Regions from separate parts of the Homo sapiens genome. Here regions 1 and 3 are each reported to be linked to region 2. Evidence: microRNA targets listed by miRTarBase, many of them from high-throughput screens and not tested one by one. Region 2 holds a microRNA gene; each other region holds the end of a gene's coding sequence.

What was found. The annotated mature microRNA hsa-miR-3941 reads UUACACACAACUGAGGAUCAUA and lies in region 2 at 2,073-2,094, opposite strand. An mRNA with a match to its seed (bases 2 to 7 or 8) in the 3' UTR can be bound and repressed. Matches are read on the target gene's strand: a 7mer-m8 pairs with bases 2 to 8, a 7mer-A1 pairs with bases 2 to 7 and ends in A, and an 8mer does both.
Region 1: the mRNA of MUC15 is a reported target of hsa-miR-3941. Seed matches in the 3' UTR shown: 8mer at 1,792-1,799.
Region 3: miRTarBase lists FAM177A1 as a target of hsa-miR-3941. Seed matches in the 3' UTR shown: 7mer-m8 at 1,680-1,686.

Annotation. Positions count from the first base shown.
Region 1 is chr11:26,558,633-26,561,632 of GRCh38, reverse strand. It overlaps MUC15 (mucin 15, cell surface associated), which reads left to right. Exons shown (of 5, transcript NM_001135091.2): 5 at 408-2,601. The coding sequence ends at 568. ANO3 (anoctamin 3) reads right to left here. Exons shown (of 27, transcript NM_031418.4): 14 at 1,854-1,914. Among named protein-coding and RNA genes, the nearest start is that of MUC15, 12 kb to the left of the region's middle.
Region 2 is chr10:122,415,850-122,419,117 of GRCh38, reverse strand. MIR3941 (microRNA 3941) reads right to left here and starts at 2,153; the gene lies at 2,051-2,153. It overlaps PLEKHA1 (pleckstrin homology domain containing A1), which reads right to left. Exons shown (of 12, transcript NM_001001974.4): 7 at 3,116-3,259; 8 at 1,150-1,218.
Region 3 is chr14:35,080,900-35,083,899 of GRCh38, forward strand. FAM177A1 (family with sequence similarity 177 member A1) reads left to right here. Exons shown (of 5, transcript NM_173607.5): 5 at 123-2,479. The coding sequence ends at 329. It overlaps LOC101927178 (a long non-coding RNA gene), which reads left to right and starts at 182. Exons shown (of 5, transcript NR_110415.1): 1 at 182-660.

The sequences.
Region 1 (3,000 bases), not on the chromosome of region 2:
ATTAATTTAAAAATTATTGACTTCACTTAAAAAAATTTTACACCAGAAGTGACAAATTCTGAACATGTTGACAAGGCTTTGAAATCACAAGATTCAAAAGTCAATGAGGTATGGTCTACACTTCTTTATGCAAGGTATTGATATACTATACTGGTCTCTTCTTTAGTTCCTTTACTTTGAGTCCATCAACAGTAAAATTTTGGAAGTAAAACTGTACTCTTAGTCTTATAAAAAATGAAGCTTGAAAAACATCTACTTATTTAAAATTTTAAAACTAAAATCTAAAAAGCCCATATAAAAATATATTTATTTTCTCATCTAGAATAATTCCTATAACTTGGTGGATGCCTGAACATGAATCTTTCAGAGTATCACTGTGAAACAGTATTATTTTGTTACTTTTTTAGTTCTGCGATTAGACAATGCACCGGAACCTTATGATGTGAGTTTTGGGAATTCTAGCTACTACAATCCAACTTTGAATGATTCAGCCATGCCAGAAAGTGAAGAAAATGCACGTGATGGCATTCCTATGGATGACATACCTCCACTTCGTACTTCTGTATAGAACTAACAGCAAAAAGGCGTTAAACAGCAAGTGTCATCTACATCCTAGCCTTTTGACAAATTCATCTTTCAAAAGGTTACACAAAATTACTGTCACGTGGATTTTGTCAAGGAGAATCATAAAAGCAGGAGACCAGTAGCAGAAATGTAGACAGGATGTATCATCCAAAGGTTTTCTTTCTTACAATTTTTGGCCATCCTGAGGCATTTACTAAGTAGCCTTAATTTGTATTTTAGTAGTATTTTCTTAGTAGAAAATATTTGTGGAATCAGATAAAACTAAAAGATTTCACCATTACAGCCCTGCCTCATAACTAAATAATAAAAATTATTCCACCAAAAAATTCTAAAACAATGAAGATGACTCTTTACTGCTCTGCCTGAAGCCCTAGTACCATAATTCAAGATTGCATTTTCTTAAATGAAAATTGAAAGGGTGCTTTTTAAAGAAAATTTGACTTAAAGCTAAAAAGAGGACATAGCCCAGAGTTTCTGTTATTGGGAAATTGAGGCAATAGAAATGACAGACCTGTATTCTAGTACGTTATAATTTTCTAGATCAGCACACACATGATCAGCCCACTGAGTTATGAAGCTGACAATGACTGCATTCAACGGGGCCATGGCAGGAAAGCTGACCCTACCCAGGAAAGTAATAGCTTCTTTAAAAGTCTTCAAAGGTTTTGGGAATTTTAACTTGTCTTAATATATCTTAGGCTTCAATTATTTGGGTGCCTTAAAAACTCAATGAGAATCATGGTAAAAAAAAAAAGTTAACCAAAGAATATACCTGTACATAATTTGTACAGTTTTAAGTTGTTAGATAGGAACTGGATTTCTTATGTATTAGACATTATTGCTCAATCATAATGGAATAGATTCTGCATCCCTAAATGTATGAACCATAAGGTTAAAAAAGATGAATGGAAATATCAAACAACTTTTTACTGAGCATCAGTTTCATAATCAATAATATAAGAAGATTAATTTGGATTCTAGTATGTTTCAGTTTGTTTTTAATTACCACCTTCCTTTGGTAGAAAAAATATGTTCCTTGATGTAGGAAAGTCTAGGTTTTAGAGATTAGAGGATGAGATCAAGAGTTAAATTCCTAAAGAAGCACTGAATATATGAAGAGAGCAAACAAATCAAGTACCAACCTAGAGGCTTTATTTTTGAATTGATTCATGGTGTGTGTGTGTGTGTGTGTGTGTGTGTGTGTGTGTGTGTAACACAGAAACAGCTTCAGAAAATAAGGGATAGAAAGTAATGAAGAAAGTACTTACCCCATATTGCCATAAAAATAGCAAAGAAGACTGTCCCTCCATTATCGAACAAATATGTCACCTGAGTAGAAAACAAACAGAAATATTAGTCATGCAAATTGATTATAATAAGCCAGTGAATACTGTTTGCACTCAGGTACTATGATTTTTTCTCAAATAGAATCATATTATTTTATAGTACAGAAATATTATATATGAATTCCTTTCATGGGTCTTGCAACAATTTCACATGATTTTTCTCATGGGGAGAGGTGAAGAAACAACATTAGCCCTCTTCTCTCCTCTCTTGATTCCCTTTATACCCCACCATCATTTCTGATTATAAATAATTCTACCATTCTATGGAAGTATTTGTGGGTCACAGATTGTCAAACTACTTAATGAAAGTTGTATGAAATTAGTTTTTCAGGTGAGGCATTCCTAGTTGCAATTCCTGTTAGCAAAACTTCTAGGAGTGGGGAAGTTGGAAAATGCAGGATTCTTCCAGTGAGCCAGCATTTCCCATAGCTAACCCTATTCTCTTAGTCTTTCAAAATGTAGAATGGGTCCAATAATGGCTATAAGATGTAATAAATCCCATCTTAATTTGTTTTAAAAGTTTCATAAATCACTGAACACTTATGAAACAAAGTGTTTTTTAATCAGATATCAACTGAAACTTCATAAAGGATGCATAGTTTTATAATGTTATTGAATCAAATTTTAAGGCTTGTATTGTTTGATTTTAATAAAGTATAAATTCAATTTACCTTTGCTTGTTTGCATTTGCATAATGCCCTCAGTATATATGTAACTTAGTGAGAGAAATTAAACTAACACAGTGAAGGCAAAAAATGTCTGGCCAGCACAAAAATTCCATAGAAACGATAGAGAAAATAGGGCATTGTCCTCACAGGAGGGTGAGGACAATCATGGGTTAAAGAACAGTATTATAAGGAAAGTTGGAATGGAATGGTGTCCTCCTTGTTCAATCTGACATCCAGAGGGTGCTCAATGGGAGCATTAAAACAACAGTAATACGTATTTCAGTTGTAACATCTGGAACACACTGCAAAATATATGTAAAGCAAGTCATCATAAAATGTATTTTCCTATAATGTGGCATTATTGATAATATCATCATAGAAAAGATGCGCTCCCTTTGAAG
Region 2 (3,268 bases):
GAAGAGCTGACTCCTGAGGTGAATCTTAAAATATCCCCTTCCTATACACTAGTGCTCTGCTGGCCAATACAGTGGCCATTGTGTGTAATGATGTAAATATAAATTAATTAAAATGAAATTAAGTCAGTTCCTCAGTCACACTAGCCACATTTCCAGCACTCAACAGCTACATGTAGCTAGTGCCCTTGGACAATACAGATACGGCACATTTCCATTTGTGCAGAAAGTTCTAATGGACAATGCTGTTCTGGTGACTTCATTCAAACAAAGTATAAGTTCCCTTCTCAAAGATCCCATACAAAAAGAAGACGTAGGATAGACATTTATACTACAGAATTGCATTCAATGTCTCCAATAAGCTATTTCAGGACTCAGATCACCCTACAATATTTTAAATAAGGATGCAACTCAAACAAGGCGAAGAGGGAATTTCAATTTCTGATTCTACCTTCAGGGAAGATAAAAACATCTTATGTGAAGTGATTTATGAGTCAATGTGAAATAGGTAAAGAAAATCTCAAGAGAAAGAAATACAGAGGGTTAAATATTGACTTTTACAGACAGAATTCTTTACACCACTTTCCTCACTGTAATGTTACTCTTTTTCCCCTTGTACAATACTTAATACCTATTTTAGTAGATAGGTACTTTGAAACTATGTAAATATCTCATTCCTCATCATATATACAGATATACATTCATTCACCAAAAAGTATTGTTTCTCTGAAAAGACTTGGCTTCTATTATACTTAATATAGTTCCTGATTTTATAAATCACTGTGTATGTGACCATTCTCCCATCTCTGCCACCACCCCTTCCCCATGTGGATGCCCTTCTCTCCCTACTCCACGTGGGGCTAACCCCCCAAGAGGACAGCCCCTTTAGAGGAAATTTATAGACTAGAGGATTCTGAGATCTTCAGATCTTTCAAGGTGGAATGCTGCTTTGAAGATAGGATCTTTTTACTTAAAAATGTATTTAAGAAAAATATCATTAACCAAAAGCATCACAACCAAATAAACTATATTTACCTCTAAAAACTAGACTTATTCTGAAACTACAGAACAGTACAAGAAATTATATATAATCACTACATTGCAACACTTTTCAAACATTCTTATAGCAACATTTATGACGTAACAACATACCAGTTCAGATTTGAAGTAGCCTATTGTGTTTTCATCCAATTGAAAATATCTTCTCTTCCAGTTTTTCATCTACCAGAGATGAACACAGACATAAGACTTGTGTTTCTAAGAATGTCAAATGTTAGTCACCACTTAATTACCCTGATATGAACCCACAATCAGACATGCCAAGCAGTGAAAAATCTCATTACTTCCCTTAGAGATGCGATAAATTAAACCTCATCCCTCTCTAGCTACCCAGGCTTTGAATTCCTAATTCAATTTCTGGTGCCTGGCTTTCATCTTTTATTGTATGATTTTATGTGTTTTTTTTTTTTTTTTTTGAGACAGAGTCTTGCTCTGTCACCCAGGCTGGAGTGCAATGGCGCGATCTCGGCTCACTGCCTCTGCCTTCTGGGTTCAAGCAATTCTCCTGCATCAGCCTCTCGAGTAGCTGGGATTACAGGCTCCCATCACTATGCCCAGCTAATTTTTGTATTTTTAGTAGAGACAGGGTTTCACCATGTTAGTCAGGCTGGTCTCAAACTCCTGACCTCAGGTGATCCGCCCACCTTGGCCTCCCAAAATGCTGGGATTACAGGCGTGAGCCACCATGCCTGGCCTATTTCATATTTTTAATGTTGAAACTTTTTTTTTTTTTAAAAGCACTTCCCCTTCCTCCTACTCCTCGCCCCCGCCAACCCCATGTAAAGAGCAAACACAGGAAATGTTATTAAACCACATCAAGTTTCTCCATCTGTAAAAACATATGAATTCTTCCACAAGTACTTTATACATAGTAGTAAAGCACTAAATATTTAATAAAGTAAACCTATTTTGTACAAATATTTTTTGTCAATAAAATAACAGTTTTTGCAGAAGCACTTAAATATCTCTGACTGGTATTTTGGACTTAAGAGTAAAACAAAAAGGAACCATCAGGCTATGATCCTCAGTTGTGTGTAAAATTAGGGCTTTCAATCTACACACAACTGAGCATCACAGCCTGATGAGAATTCTGACTCTACCTGCAGACATTGTACAGTAAGAAACCCCTGCCCTCACCATCATTTTCCTCAGCCTAAAGCAGGTCAAACAGGTGAAAGGACATTCCCCTGGCTGCCCTAAAAAAATTAAGAGTTGCCAAAAAGTGATGAGAAGTCAAACAGAACCACCAAAATAATTTTAAGTATTTCTTTACTCACAGACTTAAAAAACATTTTCAAACTTTAAAGTTAATTTTCTCATGAAATTCTAAAGATTTAGTTCACATAGAAAGAATGGCTTAGATACTAAGGTATGTTGCAACCTTAGAAATATTGGTAAATTTACTTGCTCTTGCAAAAAATTCATCATGGAACTGATTATATGGGAATACCTGGGCTAACCCATAACAGCTTTTACTAAGTACCAGGTGCTGTGCAAAGGGAAACACACCTTTCTTATTTACATCTCTTAAAAAACAAAAACAAAACAAAACAAAACCCTAGATGGTAGGTTTTATATGATATTCCTTAAGACAGAAACTGAGGGCCTGAGAGGTTAAGTAAGTAGCCCAAGGTCAGAGAGCTTACCACGGAGGTCAGGCCAATGCCTAAACAAGGAAGAGACCTCCTAGGCACCACTCCTTCTCCTGCCGCTGGCCTGCCATCTCCCCACAACAGCTCTCTTTCCCTGACCCACTCCTGAGTATGAGTAAAGATGAATAGAAACACTTTCTAAAACATTAAACTGTTAGGAAAGCTCATTTAAACTGAAAGTCAGTGGTAATGGGCATTAACTTTCCTGGCCCCCTGCAAACCAAGCAAATAACAGCATTGAATTATAAACAGAGAATATCCCCTATTTTATCTCCTGACTCTCCTCAGCATGCCGGTCTCTCACTTTGGGTCTTTCATAAAATAAAGCAAACAATTTCCATGTTAATTTGAGTTTGCTAGAACGTAATCCTTTTTCATTATTTCATGTATTTTGTTAAGCTACTCACCACTGCTCCTTGTTTTACACAATATCCAGCTTTGATAACCGCACTATCTTGAGGTGGTTTAGGAGTAAAGTAAGGAAGATGGCTTTGTGACCGTTTCAGATTATTTCTGTCAATACTTTCACCACATTCATTTACTTCTTCTTTCTAAAATGA
Region 3 (3,000 bases), not on the chromosome of region 2:
TTGAACATGACACTTTTTTTTTTTTTTTTTTTTAAACATAAGCTGACAGTGGGGAAAACAGCACTATATACCTTTTGGACTTTCGTATTTCAACTATTCTTGATATTGCTCCTTTTTTTTAGGAAGAAGAAGAAGAAGAAGAAAACAGGATGTCTGAAGAAGCAGAAAAACAATATCAACAGAATAAATTGCAGACTGATTCCATTGTTCAGACAGATCAACCAGAGACAGTGATATCCAGCTCATTTGTGAATGTCAATTTTGAAATGGAGGGAGACAGTGAAGTAATTATGGAAAGCAAGCAAAATCCAGTCTCTGTCCCACCATAAAATGAAATGACTATCAAGCTTCAAACTCTTAAGTTTTTTTTTTTTAATACAAAAACTTTCACATTCTTTATTCAGTGGGACTTAATACAATTATTTATATTTTAAATTATTAAAGTATCTGGAAAGGGAAAATGTTTTCTTCATTTTTAGGATCTATCTAGCAAAAGCCAGATCTGAAATTCAGATATTTGTACTGTTTTTACTGTGTATAGAAATTAGTGCTTTGGTTTTAAAATGATCTTTTAAAAAAGTTAAGGACATCCTAGAGCCTTAATAGTTAAGAAGAGTTAAATTATCAAGCCTATTTGTGCATTTGCTTTTTTTGAAAAAGGTAAGTTGCTGATTAAGTCTAATTGGAATTGATAATTCCATAGTCTTAGATTAAAATGAGGATATTTTCTCCTAGATTTTCTCATGTTATGCCATGCATTTATATATCTAACCATTAATTTCACACTAAGGATGCTTCACCATATAATAAAAGGAGCAAGATGGAAGCACTTTGAATTTTCTTTCATTGAGAATAACTGTTTTATGTAAGAATCTGTATTTATAACACCAGATATTAAGATAGGCTTCCATTTTTTAATGCAAGCCACTTACTTAATCTTGTATTCTTTTTCAGGACTCAAATAACTAGCTTTGAACATAATATTAAAACACTACTTATAGAATAGATTTATTAATGTTAATACCTAGTGAATATCCATGTGGCATCCTGGTTATGTTATCGGTTCAGCGTTAATCCTATAGAAAAGTGGTTTGGAGGGGATTGGGGGATAGTGGGACAGGTATAGATTTAATCCATCAGGAGCAATTAGATATTGTATAAGGTGCAATGATAGCCTAATGAAATTACCCGTCATTCATCATTTAGAAGTAGCAACAGTGAAGACTGGACAGTTTACTTGAATCTGGTTGGCCACTCCTCTACCTACTTGGTTATTTGTAAACCTTACAAATGTATATATTGTGAAGCTAATTTTGAAAATATTCCTAAATATGGCCAGGTACGGTGCTCACACCTGTAATCCCAGCACTTTGGGAGGCTGAAGTGGGCAGATTACTTGAGGTCAGGAGTTTGAGACCAGCCTGGCCAACGTAGTGAAACCCCGTCTCTACAAAAATACAAAAATTAGCCAGGCGTGGTGGTGCACGTCTGTAATCCCAGCTGCTCGGGAGGCTGAGGCAGGAGAATCACTTGAACCAGGGAGGTGGAGGTTGCAGTGAGCCAAGATTGCACCACTGCACTCCAGCCTGGGCGACAGAGTGAGACTCCATCTTGGGGGGAAAAAAGTATATATATATACACACACACAGACACACACACACACACATATATCTCTAAATGTGTGTATAGAACCTTTTATCAGTATAACATTGATTTATAATTAAATGTGGGTGAGGAAGAATGTGTGGAGTGTTTCAGAAATTTTGATCTTAAAAGCCTTTTCAGAAACTCAAAGCTTTCAGAAATTAATAGTTATATTAATAGCCTTCTAAACAGCATTAAGTTTTCAATTTTAATATATCTATATAAAATATAGTGTCAAAGAAAGTAACATCAATATAGTGGGTCTGTAATGGAAATCTGTCAATGAACATGAACTGAGTTCTTCAACTACAGGTTGAAGGATAATTAAACTTTTCATTAGGAGTGTTCAGCTACATGGATTCATGGAATGGTGGTTCATAGTAAGTGATGGTAATCTTTTTATTCATGGGTGTAAACCCTTTATAACTTAGTGCTTAAAATATTAATCTTTTGATTATATAATGTCCCATGAATTATAGTTTACCAATAGTTCTAAAACATGCTAACCTGACCTTTTCCTTCTAATTTGTTTTTAACTTCATTCGAGATAGTACCTCTCACTCACAGATATTTATTTGGTTATCAAGTGAAGATAGGTGTGTCTAAAAGTGATCTTCTGAATCCTGTCTCCCTAGAGGTACTAGTATCTAGAGTTTACCCAGAAAATTTTATGATTGTAACAAAAGGAAGTAGTGACTTATGAAGGTTTTGTTTCTTGAATTTTACTTTTGCTACTTGTCCAATAGTGGCTAGTTTATGTTTATCAATATAGTTATTCACTGTGCCTTAAGTTTATACTTTGTTTATGCAAACTATAAAATTTCCCATAAATGTATTCAATGGTTTGTCTTACTTTAAGCCTCTTTCACTCACTTTTTCCTATCTCCTTTTCAGTCCTTTTAAGAATTCCAGTTCCAGCTGGGCACGGTGGCCCACGCCTGTAGTCCCAGCACTTTGGGAGGCCAAGGTGGGCGGATCACTAGGTCAGGAGTCCGAGACCAACCTGGCCAACATGGTGAATTAGTAGAGATGGATTTCTACTAAAAATACAAAAATTAGCCGGGCATGGTAGCAGGTGCTTGTAATCCTAGCTGCTCGGGAGGCTGAGGCAGGAGAGTCACTTGAGCCTGGGAGGCGGAGGTTGCAGTGAATGGAGTTTGCACCATTGTACTCCAGCCTGGGCGACACAGCAAGACTCGTCTCCAAAAAAAAAAAAAAAAACAGAATTCCAGTTCCTTCTGGATCATAGTTCATATTTACCTTCTTCTAATCTTTCAGCATCTCATAAAAACTAAATGTAATGTATAACTGAAGTCTTTATCCTGAATTAACATAAATTCTTTAACAAAAATCCTT